4 linked regions of the Homo sapiens genome follow. The protein of the gene in region 4 interacts with the protein of the main gene of each other region in a biochemical or structural test. Each region holds a gene or a part of one and is shown on either strand. Other genes may lie near its edges.

Region 1 (4,412 bases), on a different chromosome or scaffold from region 4:
CTCAAGCACCTGCCTGTCCCTGGTCTCCTCTCGGTCCTTCCTGCTGCAGTCCCCCATCAGCACCTGCCCTGGCCATCCTCACCCCAGGTTCTATGCCCCCAACTGCCCTTCCTCATGCCCACAGCCTCCGGTGCTTTCTGTGGCCATGGCACACTGATAGTCATGCACATGAATCTGTTTCCTCTGCCAGACAGGGCACTGTCTCCTCCCGTCCCTGGCCAGGAACACAGGGCTGGCCCAGGGGAGGTGCCAGTAACTTTGCAGGATCAGCTCTCCTCAGAGGCTCTGCCTAGCCCAGCCTCCTTCCCCTTGAGCCCTGTCTCCCTCCTTTCGCTGGCCCTTCATCCCACTCCACTGGCTCTGGGACGCCTGTGTCACTCTGGTCCCAGTCTGTCCTCTAGGAGCCTAGGGCTTCTGACCAGTTTGTCACATGCCCCTGTTTCCCCTTCATGCTTGTCTCCTGTCTGTCCCACTGCCAAAGGGAACAGGCTGTTCTCTGCCCTGGTTCCCCTGAGGTGTGGGCATAGTGGCCTTGCACACACATGTCCTGTGGCCAGCAGCTTGCCCCACTGTACCATGGATCCAATCAATGTCCCCACTGCCGAGGAGGGTATGGAAGTCAGGCACTGAGCTCTGGCTGGGAGAGATGGAGGGACTGGCTCTTGGGGAATCAGCGAGTGCTTCCATTATGGAGTGACCTAGGTCCAGAGCTGAAAACCCTTTTTTTTGAGATGGAGTCTAGCTCTGTCGGGCTGGAGCACAATGGTGCAATCTCAGCTCACTGCAATCTCCGCCTCACGGGTTCAAGCAATTCTCCTGCCTCAGCCTCCCGAGTAGCTGGGATTACGGGTGCCCACCACCACACCTGGCTAATTTTTCTACTTCTAGTAGAGACGGGGTTTTGCCATGTTGGCCTGTCTCTAACTCCTGACCTCAGGTGATCCGCCCACCTCGGCCTCCCAAAGTGCTGGGATTACAGGCGTGAGCCACCATGCCTAGCCTGAAAACCCTTCTTAAGAAGTCATGTGGCCGAGCGCGGTGGCTCACGCCTGTAATCCCAGCACTTTGGGAGGCCGAGATGGGTGGATCACAAGGTCAGGAGATCCAGACCATCCTAGCTAATACGGTGAAACCCCGTCTCTACTAAAAACACAAAAATTAGCTGGGCGTGGTGGCGGGCACCTGTAGTCCCATCTACTCAGGAGCCTGAGGCAGGAGAATGGCGTGAACCCAGGAGGCAGAGCTTGCAGTGAGCCGAGATCACGCCACTGCACTCCAGCCTGGGCGACAGAGCGAGACCCCATCTCAAAACAAAACAAAAAGTCATGTGACACAGCAGTTGCCAAGCTTTCTGTGTGGCAGAGACCAGGCCAGGACTCCTGGTCTAGCTCTCTGTGGGCTGACTGGCCCCTGGACCTGGGGACTCAGTGGCCCAGCCTCCTTTCCCCAGGCAGGGCCAGGCAGGACTGACACTGGTCTCCCTGGGGACAGAGTTAAACGAAGTCCCTCCTAAGATCCCATGGGGTGGGGTGGTACAGTGGGGGGAACGCGAGTTGGAGTCAGGGATGACAGCCCAACCCTAAGGCCCTGTCCTATCCTTGCAGCTGTCTTCCAGTGTGGGGACTGGGAAGACACACGCAGCCCTCCTGATGCTAAAAGCCCACTCAGGACACTTCCCAGTTCCCCAGGCAGGCCGCCTCTCCATCTGGCTGCTGTGATAGGGACGTGTGCTCACCTTGGTCCCAGCGGGATGGCCTTTGCCTTTAACCCCAAAGATTTGAAACCTGCATTCTCAGCATAAGAGAGAGCAGGGGGCAGGGGGTCTGTGATGCCCCCAGGCCCTGCAACTGGAATGCACTAAGTGGTCGATGAGATAAAGAAGGGGCCCGCCTCTGCCTCTAAATCCTGACCTGCCACCACCAGGGACTCCCCAGGGGGTCTGCTCTGGAGCCACTCTGCAAACTGCAGAGGGCCCGGAACTTGGAAAGGAATTTAGGCTCAGGTCACCTTCGGGTCAGAGCAGGAGGGATGGTGCCATGGTGGCTGAAAGAAGGGATGTTGCAAGGACCTGTCAAGAGGCCCCGGGGACTTCAGTTCCTGACCCTGGACTGTGGGCACTGGCAGCGGCTGCAGGACTAGGTGAAGGTCAACACCGTAGGGGCTGGATGCTGGGGGCAGCCAGCCTACCACCTGCACCTGTGAGCCCAAGACGAGGGTTCTGACTGGATCAGCCTCTGCGGGAGGAGGTGCTCAGTGTTGATGCGCGCAACATGACTGCCTCCCGGGGCCTCAGAGTCAACTCTGGTGGAGGGAGGCCACCCTTGACTGGCTCTCCGGCCATAGGGCTTGGCTCTGTGCAGGGTGAATGCACGCTACAGCTGCACTCCCAGGCAACACCCCGAGGGAACAGGGAGGCATCAGACACCAGCCCCCCAGCCTCCTCTCTGGGCTGCCCTGTCTGTGAAGCAGAACCATGTGACTGGCAGGGCTGCTGGGGGGCAGGTCACAGGATCTCAGCACCATGGCGCTCAGGCAGGGACTCAGCTGTTTCCCAGGCCCGGGCCCTTGAGCCCCGTGGGTGGCTCTCATTCCTTCTTCCTTGCTCAGATTTATGGGAAGTCATAGAAAGCTGTCTCTTGGGATGTCTGGGAAAACAAGTTAGACACAAACCTAACGAGCTCCATTAATTGTCATGGCTTTGCAAAACAGACCTTCCTATTTGCTCCTCATGTAGCATTTTAAGCTGTCATCCCTGAGTGATGACTGCAGATGTGGATGATGATAGTCTGATGAGCAGACTAAATCTGAACATCCTGTTTTGATGTAGGGATGCTTGCTGCACCCCCACCCCATCCCAACACAGAGGACAGGGTGAGGAACCACGGGGCTTCCCAGTCCTAGAGTCCTGCTGAGCCGGGAGAGTTCAACCTCGCTATTTTTTTTTTTTTTTTTGGAGACAGGGTCTCGCTCTGTCACCCAGGCTGGAGTGCAGTGGTGTGATCTTGGCTCACTGCAGCCTCCACCTCTTGAGCTCAGGCGATCCTCCCACCTCAGCTTCCTGAGTAGCTGAAACTACAGGCATGTACCAACATGCCCGGCTCATTTTTTCTATTTTTTTTTTTTTGTAGAGGTGGGGTCTCACCATGTTTTTCCCAGGCTGGTCTTGAACTACTGGGTTCTGGTGATCCACCTCAGCTCCGCGAAGTGCTAGGACTGCAGGTGTGAGCCATCGCACTGGGCCTTGACCTCACTTTTAACTCTGAGTCCCACCTCCTGCCAGGAACAGGAGGGCCTCTCCCGGGTCCATCCCCATCCCTACCACAGAGGACACTGGACTGGAATATTCTGTTCACACTTCCACCATCTCAGCCAGCCCAAATGCTACAGGCAGGGATCAAGGTGACCTGTCTCTATCTTCCAGGGCAGCCAGGATGGGGTCCAGCCCAGCATGGTACTCATCAAATGCTCTCTGACTGACCAAAGGCAGAGATACTAGAGTAAGAAGGAGCTGCTAGGGACCCCTGACTCTCAAAAGCTGGGCGGGCCTTTGTGTTTAAGACATAATTCAAGTTCAACAGATGAAGAACCCTGGGCAGGGGTCACCCTGACCAAAATAACAGTCTGGGCAAGAGCAGAGAGAGAGGGTGTGGGGCAGGACAACTGAATGGTGGATGGTGGGGGCAGGCCAGGGCTCCGTGGAGGCAAGGACTTGAGGTTCACCCTGACAGAACTCCAAGTCTTTGCCAGCTATTGTGTTAGGTGCTTCTAACCCTACCTGGCACAGCGGAGCCCTGGAGAGATACATAGGGCAGGAGGAGGACGGAGCAAACACACAGACCCCAGCCAGATTGTGCTGCGAAGCGTGAGAAAGCCTCAAAGGTATCACCGCTCACACAGAGAAGTCTTTCTCAAAACAGTTTTGCAGGGAGATGAGGGAGGGAGAGACTCATGCATGATCCTACCTGAAGGCGTAGGTCTTCTGATGCCAGCTCAGCTGTCCCCGGATGCTGTATGCGATGGTGGTGACAAACTCCCCGCCCAACCCCAGCTCCGAGCACAGCTTCAGGGCAAACTTCTCTGGTGAGTTCTCCTTCTCTGACATGTCCCACTCAAACTGGTCCACCAGGGAAATGTTTCCCACATGGATGTTCAGCTGAGGCAACAACCAAAGGACACAAGTTAGAGCTTTTGCAGCCCAGGGAGGCCGCGAGGAGCGGGGCCCTGCCAGGCCTGGGGTGGGCCCTGCCCACCAGGGTCCACCAGCTGAGAACTGCAGGTGGTCCTTGTCCTTCCAGTTCCCCATCCCCAAAACAAGGCTGACCCCACAACCCTGTCTGCCATGAGGGGCTCTGGCTCAGGGCCCAGCACAGTCACCCTCGGGAGGCCCTGAAGTGACCCCGGGGGCACCTGAG
Region 2 (4,412 bases), on a different chromosome or scaffold from region 4:
CCTATGAGTTAGGTAATATTATCTTCACTTTTCAGCTAATGAAACTGAGACTTGCAGGCGTCATATAACTCAGTCAAGGCCAATACGTGGTGAAGCTGGGATTCAAGCCCAGGCCTGTCTTACTCCAAAGCCATCTCTTAATCCCTTAAGCAATCCTGCATAGGGGATACATGTGCACTGTTCTAAAGACATTCAGATGAATGTCTAAGAAGATGACCACTCCAGAGCATGGACAGATTGAGGTGCAGAGCACACTAAAGCATCTCGCAGCAGCACTACATCTGGGACACGAGGTACAGGCTGGATCTTCTCTAAAATAAGCTATCAGGTGCCACTTTACTCAAGCCTCTTCCTTAGCAATAGCAAGTATATCGTACTTGGGATTAACTCCGGCACAGAAGAGCCTAAAAAACTAAATTGTGATTTTGCTACTTGAGAAATATTTTAAAACGGATGATCTCAGGGTTTCACTATTGCTTCTTGAAATGTGATACTGGAAGAAGACTTCTGAAAAGGGCCTAAACTCTGACATAGACATGATGCACATACACCAAGAAAAAGGTCATACTTCTAAAACTGCTCGAAAATTTCCATGTGCCGCTCAGCATTTCATAGCAGAAGTACATTCCCCCTCCCCCTCAAATCCTCACACCCTTATGGGAATTTCCCCAATAGCAGAAGTTTTATATATTTTTCTTTATTATATTTTCTATGATGACTAATGGCCACAGGATTTAAACTATTAGCCAAATATGACGAGCTGAATTAAAACAAGAGACTTGGGCTGTGATGGCCAAAAGCTGCCCTATACCTATGCTCTTATGAGGATCCTCTGGTCTCTCCAAGTCCCAAATCTGTGGCCTCTCTGAGAGCCGGCTTGTGTGAGTGTGCTTGGGTCTTAGGAGGGAACTTGCATGTGCCTCGCCTTGTATCCCTTCCAACAATCCTCCCTTCAGATATCAGCACTTCCTTTCTAACCTGTATGTGCTCATCTTCTTAGACTTATCAATTTAACAGGTCCCTGGAAATGCCACTTGAAACACTGCTGTACTGTCTTGGTTAACTGCTTTTTCTTGTGGTTGTATGCTACTGAATGCTAACTGGATTATTTAACCCTGAAAAAGAATTCTGCTGTTCATGGCTTTATACCAAGAAGGTTGTACTGGTTCCTCTCATACTGTATAACAAGGCCAGTGGTTATACCACATCCTTGGTTACGTTGCAAGGAATGAGAACAAAGGTGTCTCTGCTTGAAACCCTGAGGTTGTTACTTTCCTAAAGTGCTTGGTTTAATTTTTAAACTGAAGTCTAAAACACAGCACTCAAGAGCTCTTCCACAGAAAAGGATTTCTCTATGTTGATGCTATTTTAGGAAGGTTTTAGATAAGGCACTTGACTTGAATGTGAAGGCTGCTGTCTCTTGTTATTTTTATAGGCTTTTGAGATCATTTTAGAAGTCTCAATGAAAGGACTAAGAGAACTGTTTTAGAAAGAAGCCAGGTGGCTTTGCAAATACAATCTCAGTAATAGCAAGAATGGAAGGCATGGTGTTTGGAATGTTCCACTCCCACATATGGGCTGGAGCAGTCACAAAAGTCTGAAACAGTCATAGACTGATGACCATCAGAAGAGGGAGCAGAGAAGAAACCAGTAACTGGGAAATAATGACCAGTCCCTCTTAATCTTTCTGTTGTTGTTGCTGCCTTTATTGGGCTTTTTCTTGAGTACACTGTCATAAATATGCAGCTGGGATAACAATGCTTCAGGGATTTGGTAGGACTCTTAACAATTCTCCAAATATTACTTCAATAAACAAAGCAAGGCTTTTCAAAAAGTACCATTACCTACACACATCTTAGTTTTCTTGCCCAGAGAGATTCACTCTTAGATGAGTCCTCCAGCTACTACAGATTCCAACAGATGACAGCAGCAGGATGGAGCAGCAAATTGTGCTACTTAACCTTATTCACACATTATTTTTCTTCATCATTCCAGTTAGAGGACTCAATATATTTGAACAATTATTTTTATCTCTAGTCAGTATGCATTATACGATGCTCTTCTTCTTCCCCACCCAGGACAACCTATCATGCAAAAGTTCTGACTTACCTGTCCCCATTCTCATCCTGCACAGCAGTGAGATGGCGCTGGACGGCCAGCAGCATCTTCACGTCTCCTGTCACCGCGTAGTCGAAAAGGGCATTGGCATGCCTCTTTGCAAGCTGCATAGCCTTCTCTAGAAAGAGGTTATCTGTAAGGCAATGACCACAATCATAGTTGAGTGTTCCTACTTTTGTTTTATGGGTATGGCATGCTTAAGGACAAACTGACCAGCATCAGTGTTCTGACACCTTGACATATCATTTTAGTTGAAAATGTTCTTTCAATGCTTTTGGATTGTGTGGACTAGAAAAAGCAGAATTGGACACTGGGTCACTGACAAATATAGTTAGAGATTGATCTTAAAGAATCTGTGTATGATTTGTTAGAGGAAAAAAGTTTAGAAATGTATTATTTTAAGGGAACGACCATTATCTGTTATTTTAAGGAAAACAATCTCCAAACAATGTTAGATTTTACCATGATTTTAAATCACCAATATCTTGGTGAAATAATCCTTCATTGGAATCTCTAACAATTAGCTTGTTAGGCAATGTGTGAAAAAACACACATCTCTGCCATAAACAGAGACGTTCAATGAGCCACTCACGTTTTTGTAAAGTTTGTTCCATTAAGGTCAGGGAATGGCATTTGTGACCTTTGGGCCAAAACCTGTTTATGGCCTGCTTTTCATATAGCTCCCTAGCTAATCATGGCTTATACATTTTTAAAGGGGTGTAAAAAAAAAGCATATGTGATAGACACCACATGTGGCCACCAACTCTAAATATTTACTACCTTTGCTTTTATAGACGTCTTCTTAGTACGATCTAGGATGACCTAGAATCATGACACATATGCTAATAAGTATTGGTTCACAGTAAACGCAAAAGTACATTTTCTCCTAATCCTACTTCTTCAAAGAGGGCACAAGATAAAAAGAAAAGTTCCTATTTTAAGGCAAAGTTCTATTTCAGTATGACGGTTAAGCCAGAATCTAGACAGGGTGACTATTAAGCTTGTGGAAATACTTCTCTATTTATCTGTGCCAGAAAAGAAGTTGATTATCTCTCACAATACCCTAAAACTGCATGATTATGACTGGAGAATGTACATATAAATTTCTGTCCTTTACATTCAAAGATAACAGAGCAAAAATGGAAATCCCAGTGTGAATAAAATGATCTGACATATGCTTTTCCAAAGGCATACAGAACTTTGAAGAGTACACTAAACTAGATATTGATATATCATCTTTAGATTAGCAGATATCTTTCTGCACCTAGGACTGACCCCTCCCCAGCCAACCAACAGAACGTAATTTGTGTGCTCACTTACCCTGAACTCCAGCACTCTCTTCTTTTGTTCCTGTTGCATACGTTAGAGTGACCTCACCATTCCCAACGGTGGCCTCGCTGGGCTCCTGATCTTGCTCTGTGGTTTCAATAACTTTCCCAAAGAGGTTTACAGTGTTTTTGTCATCACTTTTGTCACAACCTTCAGGGTCCTTTTTAGATTCAGTGTCCATGGTTCCTAAGATAAATGCAAAAACATCAGATTTTTCTCAGTAAAATGTATTTAGTGATAATTCGCTATTCCAATGTAGGTCAGATAAAGGTAAGAGACAAGTTTGCTGCAAAAGGAAAAGAAAAATAATAATTTAAAATTCTTTTAAAAATGGTCATATCATAAATACCATGTTTTGGAGATATTCTAAACTCATTTCTAAAAATCATTTTTAGTATACTTCTAAAATCTTAAATCTCATTTTGCTTATTTGTAAAGGAGAAAAATGAAATAAAGCTCTTCTATGAATTGCAGGAAAGCTGAATTTTTAAAGTTCTTGAAAACAGAGCAGTTTTTTCCTAATGCTAATGAACAAAGCAAATCATAAAGACGTGTTGTCGACTCACATTCTTTAGTGTGGGAGTTATCCAGTGTACCATTCCTGATCACCCTCTTTCAGGTTCAACTATGTTATCTGACAGATACTATGAGAGCATCTAGCTTTTCTGCAGGAGACCTGCTTCAAATTCTTGTTCTGCCACTAACTTCTGTGTGCCTTCAGTGAGTACGAACATTTCTGAACTTTGATGCCTTTTGTGTGCAAAATGGAGTTACTATTTTCCATATAGAGCAGTCATGAAGATAACAGTTAAAACATGTAAAAGCACTTGGCACAAAAATAGGTATTCAATAAATGGGAAGACTTCTTTATAGTATTATTTCTTCCATGGGTACACTAGAATGGACCTGTAATATAAACTATCAACATGTGGTTTAACTGCAGCTTCTCAGGGGATGACTTGATG
Region 3 (4,412 bases), on a different chromosome or scaffold from region 4:
TTCTTAGACCCTGGGCTTTGCTCACCCTCACTTTGGCAGAGCTGTCCAATGAATTCATCAAATGGGGTCAGAATGACTGAAAAATGGACCCTTGTGGGTGGTGGGGACATCACAGAACAGAACGGTTCCTTGACATGTACATAATCCAACCACATCATTTTATAGACAAAGACGCTTAAGCCAGGACGTATAAATGACTGCCCAAGGTCATACAATTGCTTAGCAGCACAATGAGGTTTAGTATTGTCTTAGTTTGTCTGGGCTGCTATAAAAAAATAGCACAAACTGGGTGGTTGATGAGCAACAGAAGTTTATTTTTCACCGTTCTGGAGGCTGGAAGCCTGAGATCAGGGTACTAGCATGGCTGGGCTCTGGTGAGGGTCTTCTTCTGGGTTGCAAACTGTTAACTTCTCCTTGTTTTCTTACGTGGTGGAAGCAGGCCAAGAAAGCTCTCCGGGCTTCCTTTATAAGGGCACTAATCCCATTCGTAAGGGCTCTACCCTCATGACCTTATCACCTCCCGAAGACCCCACCTCCTAATACCATTACATTGGGAGTTAGCATTTCAATATATAAATTTTGGGAGGACACAAACATTCAGTCCATAACAGGTGTCATGTTCATAATCCCATGGGAAGTTTTTGAATGGGTGGGCATAGGTGGATTTCCTAGAGCAAAATTCTGGGAGCAGGAACTTGGAAAAGGAAAGTAGAAAGCAAAAAGTTATTTTCATAACAAATATAATAGTGTCCTGGCTTCTCTGAAGGGCCTAGTTGAATGTTTCACAGAGGCAAATATTAAAAACATTCCTTTCTGGGGGTTTGGAAATATTTTGATGTAGGATTTGATTTCCTGTCATAGTCCTGTAAATTGTATTTGTTTTCCTGTGCTTAATTTAGTGCTTAGCTTAGTTTCCTTTTGAAAAAATGTTGGATTTTAGTGTAAATAGAGTATATATTTAAAAAGTGGATACAAATTCTGCATGGCAATTTTAACTTTGTATAAACTTATTTTGTGTCATACTCTAGGGTAGTTAGAGCAGAAAAACATTACTTTTGTGACATACTTTTTGCTGGAAATACTCATGTTCCTCAGGTTTATTTTGGAGTGAATGAGTGGTTTGCTTTACATTTTATCATTGCCATTTTGTAGGTCTCTTTCAGTCTTCGATCTTTCCATTCTCATGTGGCCACACCCTCAAGGCTAAGGAGGCTTCTCTTGCTAAAGCTTACAACAAAAGGAACCCGAAGAGGCTATCTTTCCCACCAGCCCCATGGCCCACACCTTAACTGCAGAGACACCAGGGCACCTATCCCCAAACAGATTCTAGTCTTCCTATGCTGTTAAACACACACTGAGAGTTTTCTTGGACAACACTGATAGCTCAGAGGACACTGGTCATTGGATTTTAAGTATCCTTTTCTTCCCTTTTTGGATCTTCTAGGAATACCTGAACAGTATTTTGCAACATGCAAAAGATTTTAAGGAATATCATCGGTCTGTGGCCGGAAAGATCCAGAAGCTCTCCAAAGCAGTGGCAACTTGGCATGCCAACACTGAAAGAGAGCAGAAGAAGGAGACAGAGCGGATTGAAAAGGAGAGAATGCGGCGACTGATGGTAAGGAACTCCCTGCAGGAGCCCAGGAAACTACTCAACCCACGTCCGTCTGCAATGAGACCATTAAATATGGTGGTAGTAGAAGGAAAAAATGAAAACTGCTTATCAAAAATTTTAGTAAATTTCTTTGAACCTTAGGGAGATGAAGTAAAAACTTTTTCTCTTTCCTGGAGAATGCATGCCAAAAATCTAGGGGGATGACTGATGCGTATAGTATTTCTGTGTCCTGGGGTGGCATTGCGCGGTACACATTACAGCTTCTCTCATAAAAGCAGGTACTGTATTTTGCATGAGTTTGATAACCAGATCTGGAAGGATGGCAAATGCAGTTCTTTTAAAAATATGGCCTCTTTGAGATGAATGACCACGTTTTTTGGAATGAATAACACATTAAGTCGTGTCTTCAAATCTAAGAAGGTCTGTGTTTTGAAGCCTCTGGTGCTTATCTTTCTTTTTTAATGGCAGAAATTATTCTCTAACAGTGTAATAAGTGATTTTTAAGTTGATTTTGAAATGTTGCCTTTTTTGTGATAGCCTTGTTATGGTCAAAGGCTATTCATGGATTATTACATTTGCACTGTTATTTTTTAATGGGCATATAAGCACAGAAGAGATAGGTTTATATCATTGGCCTGAGTATTTGTTTTTATTGACCATTTATTTTTGGAATTGGACCTCAGAGCACACTGTGGATTTTAGAAAAGCGTGTGTGTGTGTGATGTTATAATTATAGGAGACCTGCAGATTCTATCTAGGACGTAATGCCTGCATAGATGAAGATAAGGTCATTAGTCTCAGACCATAATTATGTTCCTGGAAAATTCTAAGTGACACTGTCTTCCTGGCTGGTATTACAGTTTGCATTTTTTTCATTTTTTGGATTCCAGAGAGTAAACACCATGTTTTAAAAGCCTCTGTGTGCAGGTACTACTACATCTTACTACCCTATCCTGCCTCCCTCTCCATACCAGGGAGAGAGGACTGTCCGAGAGGTTTCTGACTAGACCGTTTTTGTAGTAATTTGATCACTAAGCAGTCAAATTTGTCTGACTCAACTGAAGTGAAACTATATTAGAACTTCAGTAACAGATTGGTTTGACACTAATGATTAGGCATTTGCAAATCATTAATTTTTGCAATTAAGTGATGGAATATACAGATAATAGAGAAACTGAAGTTTTTTATCACTCTTTCTTCAAGTGAGTTCAACCATAACCGAAAGCAATTAGAGTTATAATAGCATTTGAGGCTCTTGCTCATCCACAGGGCAGACGGCAGCTAGACTGAGTGATGAAGCTGCTGTCACTCAGGCAGATGCTAGAGTGACACCCCTGGACAAAAGATCCCAAGTTTTTGTTTTTGTTTTTGCAATGGAGTTGCCTCTTAAAGATTTTGCAGCTTGCTCCTTTTATCGTGGCATTACATGATAAAAATAATTTGGAGTGTCCTTTTATTGGGATACACAAAGAGATTTCTCTCAAAATGGCTTAGAGTACATCAGAGTTTTATTCTGTTTAACCTCATCATGTTGCTTAATGGGAGGTGGAGGTGGGAATTACTGTATCTATTTTATTGCTCAGCAGTACCAGACTTCAGGTGCTAAGTGACTTGTCTCCAGTCACCTGGGCCCATTACTCAGTGCAGATCTGTGGCCAAAAAAAAAAAAAAAAAAAAAAAAAAAAAAAATCCCCCAAATTTGATCTTTCCTGTTAACCACAAAGTTTGTAATGCCAAAAAGAAAGACTTTTTAAAATATAAGACATTATTTGTTAAAAGCCCATTTGATTCCTTGCCTTTAGTAGTACTTTTTGAAATATTTATGAATGAAAGGATATTATGTCTGGAATTTGCTTCAAGACAATTCAGTTTGGGTTTAGAAGAAGAGTAGCAATGAAACAGGAGTCATCACAAGTGAATTTTTGTTGTTTGGGGTTGGTTATAGGAGAAATTAAACTATTCTCTCTGCTTTTGATTATATTTGAAAATGTCTAAAATATAGAGTTAAAGATAAAGTTTAGATCATGAATTGTCAAATTCTAAAATCTTTTTGTACAGTTAAAGCAACACAGAAAACAAAGAGCTTGGCTCAGAGTGCTTAATCACACCACACGTACAGTGTGGCTTTGTGCCCGGACTTTGCTGTAAACTCCAGTGTCCTGGGATGTAGGCGTCACACTTCTGTGTGTTTGTCCCACTTCAGACTCTGTGCAATGGCTTGAACAGCCCAACTCATCCAGTTTGCTACACTCCTACCAGTCAAAATGCAGACTGTCAAGGGGAGGACAGAGTGGAGAGTGGAGTTGTCTGCACGCTTATATTATGCTCTCATCCTGCTCTTCTTTCCTTAATAGGCTGAAGATGAGGAGGGTTATAGAAAACTGATTGATCAAAAGAAAGACAGGCGTTTAGCTTACCTTTTGCAGCAGACCGATGAGTATGTAGCCAATCTGACCAATCTGGTTTGGGAGCACAAGCAAGCCCAGGCAGCCAAAGAGAAGAAGAAGAGGAGGAGGAGGAAGAAGGTGCGTATCCTAGTGGTGGTGGCTGAGTCCAGGGTGTATGGGCAGGGATAAGTTTTTAAGGCGAGTATTGCTCTTTAAGTACTACTTCTTACACTGGTGGAAGGTTTAGATGATTGAATTGTGAAAATTGCATAAATGGGTATGGCATGGAAGTGTTGATTAGGTACACTAGACAACTATTGGAGGTAAGGGCATAATAATGGGATATACTAAACTAAAACAATGTTGTTCATAAATCATTGTTTAATAGAAGATTTTAAATTAAGTACATA
Region 4 (5,326 bases):
GAAGACAGAAGTTTGTCAAGCACCTCAGTTTTAAGACTTGTGTAGTTTCACTAAAAAACACAAAATAATTGTCCCTTATATGAAAAACAATTGGGTCATTCCTTGTTTATTAATATTGACTATGGCTGAATTCTTCTAATTTTTTTTGAATAAAATTAGTCCTTAATGCCTTGAAATGATAAGCAAAATTATACCTATGCGCATTTGGACATTATTCTAGGGCTTTTATCAGCTCTTCAGAAACAGGTGACTCAAAAATGTAAGTCCTTTCTAACCCAAAGGTCAATACGGTTGGCAAAGTTTTCTGTAAAGAGCCAGAGTGTTAAATATTTTAGGGTGTGTGAGCCACATACAGTCTCATGCATTTTTTTTTTAACTCCCTTTATTTTTTTTTTTTCTGAGACAAGAGTTTCCGCTCTGTTGCTCAGGCTGGAGTACAGCAGTGTGATCTCAGCTTACTCTAACCTCTGCCTCCCAGATTCAAGCAATTCTCTTGCCTCAGCCTCTATAGTAGCTGAGATTACAAGCGCACAGCACCACGCCCAGCTAATTTCTCTATTTTTAGTAAAGATGGGGTTTTGCCATGCTGCCCAGGCTGGTCTTGAACCCCTGGGCTCAAGAGATCCCAAAGTGCTGGGATTACAGATGCGAGCCACAGTGCACAGCCAGTTTTTATATTTTTAAGGGGATTTTCTTCAGGCTAGATGCAGTGGTTCACACCTGTAATCCCAGCACTTTGGGAAGCTGAGGTGGGTGGATCACTTGAGCCCAGGAGTTCGAGACCAGCCTGGGCACCATGGCAAAACCCCGTCTCTACTAAAAATACAAAAATTAGCCGGGTGTGGTGGCATGCCTGTAGTCCCAGGTACTCAGGAGGCTGAGGTGGGAGGATTACCAGATTACCTGAGCCCGGGGAAGCAGAGGTTGCAGTGAGCTGAGATCATGCCACTCCACTCCAACATGGGCAACAGAACAAGACACTGTCTCAAAAAAAAAAAAAAAAAAGAAAGAAAGAAAAAGAAAAAGAGAAAAGAAAAGAAAACAAAACAGCTTGCAAGCTATTTAAGCTGGCTGTGGCTGGATGTGGTCCATAGGTTTTAGCTTGTAGCTTGCTGACCCTGACCTAGAACATCTGATACTTCTAGGGGTTGCCCCTCAGCTGCCTTAACACTACAGTGAGGACACTCGGGCCTGCAGCTCTCCACTACCTCGATGTCCCACAGAACTTTAATAGGAAAGCCATTCTGTAACATAGATCATCTGTTTGATGGTTTAAAAAAACAAAACAAAACAAAACATAAACATGCGACTTCTCCCCAAAGCAGATTCATAAACTGGGCCTGACAGAAGCTGAGTACTCCCCTACAGCTGCTAAAGGACTCTTAGACATTGTCAGGGGCCTCATTCTCTAGAGGGGTGACAGCAGTTTGACCGATATGTTACAAGTCAGCTTACATCACACAATGAAACACTTTCTCTTGCCTGTAATGCTGGCCCACATCCTTTGTGCACAGTAACAGCTCCTGGGCATTTGTGTTCTGAGTAAGCTACTGAATTTCTGTTGGCTTTTTTTTTTTTTTCTTTGAGATGGAGTCTCGCTCTGTCGCCCAGGCTGGAGTGCAGTGGTGCGATCTCGGTTCACTGCAAGCTCCGCTTCCCGGGTTCACGCCATTCTCCTGCCTCAGCCTCCTGAGTAGCTGGGACTACAGGCGCCCGCCACCACAGCCGGCTAATTTTTTTGTATTTTTAGTAGAGACGGGGTTTCACCGTGTTAGCCAGGATGGTCTCCATGTCCTGACCTCGTGATCCGCCCACCTCGGCCTCCCAAAGTGCTGGGATTACAGGCTTGAGCCACCGCGCCCAGCTGCTACTCAATTTCTGTACAGGAGGTGTTTATGTACAGAAATCCAGCTGGAAGGGGACTTGTGGAGATGCAACCAATTCTTGGTGCCACCACTGGTTTCAGTGAATAGCTTTAATAAATTTGGACCATTATTACAGTAAGTTATCGGAGAAGCAGACTGACCCATTCAGGCTCCAAAGTCAAGTCCCTTCCCAGTTCAGAAGGGGAAGGGATAGGAAATAAATGCTCAAATCTATCAAATTTCAAGAGTTGACTGCAGAAGTTTCACATCAGATAATCTACCACTTGAGTTTTCTGGACTGGTTGGAAGAAAATAAATCATTCCTTCTGGGTGCCTGATCTCGGCTCAGCATCTGCTTTCTTCTGGGCTGTTGATTTTCTGTTGTAAATGTAGCTGATAATGTGCAAACACTAAACCCTTTAAGTTGAAATGTTAGGAAGGCATTCTAAACTGAGCCAAGGCAAGGTGCTTTACTCCCTAATTTGGAAGAATATGTAAGTGATAACATAAAGAACATAGAACTCAGTATTTTCCAAGTAACTAATAAAGTAATTGTTCTGAGTAAAAGATCTGGGCAACTTACCTTCAGGGGGCTCAGACATGGACGGGGTGAGACAGTACATGTGGTAGCCACGATCGCAGTCATCACAGAAGAGCAACTGGTCCTGAAGTAGGCAAGAGGGAAGAGGATGGGGACTGAATAACTGATGTGCCTCAGGCCACTACAGGACACTGCTATTTCCAAGAGGGGTAGGTAGCAGGTAAGAACAGATGTGAGAATCTTATGTGGGAAACCATGCTGCCCCTCTCCACCGCAGATCCAGTCACTGTCATTTCTCACTTGGGTCCTTTCAGAGCTCCTAATTGATCAAATCACCTCCACTTTTTTTTTTTTTTTTTTTTCCCTAAAGCCCAAGCTCTATGGTATATTTTTTTGAGACAGGGTATTGCTGTCACTCAGGCTGGAGTGCAGTGGTGCAATCACGGCTCACTGCAGCCTTGACCTCCTGGGCCCAAGTGATCCTCCTACCTCAGCCTCTCAAGTAGCTGGGACTATAGGCACACACCACCACACCTAGCTAATTTTTCAATGTTTTTGGAGAGACAAGATCTCCTTACGTTGCCCAGGCTGGTCCTGAAATCCCAGGCTCAAGCAATCCTCCCACCTCAGCCTCCCAAAGTGCTTGGATTACAGGTGTGAGACGCCGTGCCCAGTGACTATTTCTTTTTGAGACAAGGTCTTGCTTTGTTGCCCAGGCTAGAGTGCGGTGGTGTGATCATGGCTCACTGCAGCCTCAAACTCCTGGGTTCAAGCAATCCTCCCACCTCAGCCTGCCAAGTAGCTGGGACTAACGTGTGTGCCACCACACCTGGCTAAGTGTTTATTTTTTTTGTGGAGACAGGATCTCCCTATGTTGCTCAGGCTGGTCTTGAATTCCTGGGCTCAAGTGATCCTCCCGCCTCAGCCTCTCAAGTGTTAGGATTACAGGCATGAGCCTCCATCCTTGTCCCTACAGTCTACCCTCCACACGGCACCCAAAGTCATCTTTTTAAAATATAAGACAAGGGCCAAGCACGGTGGCTCACACCTGTAATACCAGCATTTTGGGAGGCTGAGGCAGGTGGATCACCTGAGGTCAGGAGTTGAAAACTAGCTTGGCCAACATGGTGAAACCCCGTCTCTACTAAAAATTAGCCAGGCGTGGTGGCGGGCGCCTGTAATCCCAGCTACCTGGGAGGCTGAGACAGGAGAATTGCTTGAACCTGGGAGGCAGAGGTTGCAGTGAGCCGAGATTGCGCCATTGTACTCCAGCCTGGATGACAAGAGTAAAACTCCATCTTGAAATAAATAAATAAATATAAAATAAAATATAAGACAAGGCCAGACATGGTGGGTTCATGCCTGTAATCCCAGCACTTTGAGAGGCCAAGGTGGGAGGACTGCTTGAGCTCAGGAGTTTGAGACCAGCTCAGCAATATGGCAAGACCCTGTCTCTACCAAAAATATAAAAAAGTAGCCAGACATGGTGGTGTGCATCTGTGGTCCCAGCTACCCGGGAGGCTGAGGTGGGAGGATTGTACTGCTTGAGCCTGAAGGGAAAGGTTTTAGTGAGCTAAGATCGCGTCACTGCACTCCAGCCTGGATGACAGAGAGACTCTGTCTCAAAATAAATAAATAAATACATAAAGAATAAATAAATAGCTGGGTGCAGTGGCTCACGCCTATAATCCCAGCACTTTGGGAGGCTGAGGCAGGCGGATCACCGGAGGTCAGGAGTTCGATACCAGCCTGGCAAACATGGAGAAACCCCATCTCTACTAAAAATACAAAATTAGCCGGGTGTGGTGGCACGTGTCTGTAATCCCAGCTACTTGGGAGGCTGAGGCAGGAGAATCACTTGAACCCAGGAGGCAGAGGTTGCAGTGAGCTGAGATTGTGCCACTGTACTCCAGCCTGGGCGACAGAGCAAGACTCCATCTCAAAAAAAAAAAGTAAATAAATAAATACATAAATAACCATGTCACTTCCCGAGTAAAACCCTTCAACAGTGTCCTGTTGTACCTAGAATAAAACCCGAGGCCCCAGAGATCTGGCAGTGCTTGCCTCTCTCATCTCATTGCCCACCATACTCTCCCATGCCCTGTCATCTGGCTTGTCCAACATAAGGCCTTGGCGCTGGCTGCTCCTTTCCTGGGATTCCTCTACCTCCAAATCTTGACTGGCTCCTTGGTATCACCAAAATTTCAACACCAGCATCACCCTCCCAGAAGAGCCATACCTGACCATCAAAATAAATCACTTATGCAATTATTCTCTGCCACAGTACTGATTTCGTTTTTTTCATGGCACATTATACAAATCTCATTTACATCCTTGCTTATTGTTGTTCCTGTAAGAATGTAAATCTCATGAGGCAGGGACCTTGTTTGTCTTTAGCATCTTTAGTGACTAGAACAGTGTCTGACATAAAATCAGCACTCAATATATATCTGGCAACAAATCAGAGTTCTGACTGAGATGCTAGGGAGGGGCGTGTGGCATGTGGGAGGGATCCTGCTCCCTTTTTAAAAGAAAGCTCACTTTAGAGGGAACTGTGCAAACAGCAGTAAAAGCCCAGAAGGAGCCATGCTGAGGAGGGGGCGGGGATACACACGTCATTCTCGGAGGTGCCGCAGATATTGCAACATTTGCACTCGATGCACTGCCAGCGGTATGTCTTCACTGCCGCCATCATCACGGGGGTAAATTGGAGGCAAGATGGATGCCCTGTAGTGGGGGAAGTGAGTGAGACAGACAGTCGGAAATGCGGGGGGAAGAGAGGAGCTCCTGCCTGTGGCTACATCTTCTCTTGGTTAGGAAAAGCGAGGTGGGCTGGTTATGACAGCCCTAGAGGCCAGCAAGCCAAGAGCCCCTTGGGGACTGGGCAAAGCAGCAGCCTTCACGGGAAGCAGTACCTGAG

What was found. Proteins that work in one complex are often made in the same cells at the same time.
Region 1: the proteins of DPF2 (region 4) and SMARCB1 form a complex in vitro, tested with the Homo sapiens proteins (one study listed by BioGRID).
Region 2: the proteins of DPF2 (region 4) and NFKB1 form a complex in vitro, tested with the Homo sapiens proteins (2 studies listed by BioGRID).
Region 3: the proteins of DPF2 (region 4) and SMARCA2 form a complex in vitro, tested with the Homo sapiens proteins (one study listed by BioGRID).

What each region holds. Positions count from the first base shown.
Region 1 is NC_000022.11:23,824,966-23,829,377, reverse strand, and holds part of SMARCB1 (SWI/SNF-related matrix-associated actin-dependent regulator of chromatin subfamily B member 1), read right to left. Parts: intron 4,154-4,412; coding exon 3,963-4,153; intron 1-3,962.
Region 2 is NC_000004.12:102,595,359-102,599,770, reverse strand, and holds part of NFKB1 (nuclear factor NF-kappa-B p105 subunit), read right to left. Parts: intron 3,634-4,412; coding exon 3,439-3,633; intron 2,252-3,438; coding exon 2,110-2,251; exon of another isoform or gene 36-2,109; intron 1-35.
Region 3 is NC_000009.12:2,056,847-2,061,258, forward strand, and holds part of SMARCA2 (SWI/SNF-related matrix-associated actin-dependent regulator of chromatin subfamily A member 2), read left to right. Parts: intron 1-1,444; coding exon 1,445-1,618; intron 1,619-3,969; coding exon 3,970-4,140; intron 4,141-4,412. UniProt on the Homo sapiens protein: ATPase involved in transcriptional activation and repression of select genes by chromatin remodeling (alteration of DNA-nucleosome topology).
Region 4 is NC_000011.10:65,346,054-65,351,379, reverse strand, and holds part of DPF2 (zinc finger protein ubi-d4), read right to left. Parts: coding exon 5,322-5,326; intron 5,134-5,321; coding exon 5,021-5,133; intron 2,531-5,020; coding exon 2,449-2,530; intron 1-2,448. UniProt on the Homo sapiens protein: Plays an active role in transcriptional regulation by binding modified histones H3 and H4. Is a negative regulator of myeloid differentiation of hematopoietic progenitor cells. Might also have a role in the development and maturation of lymphoid cells.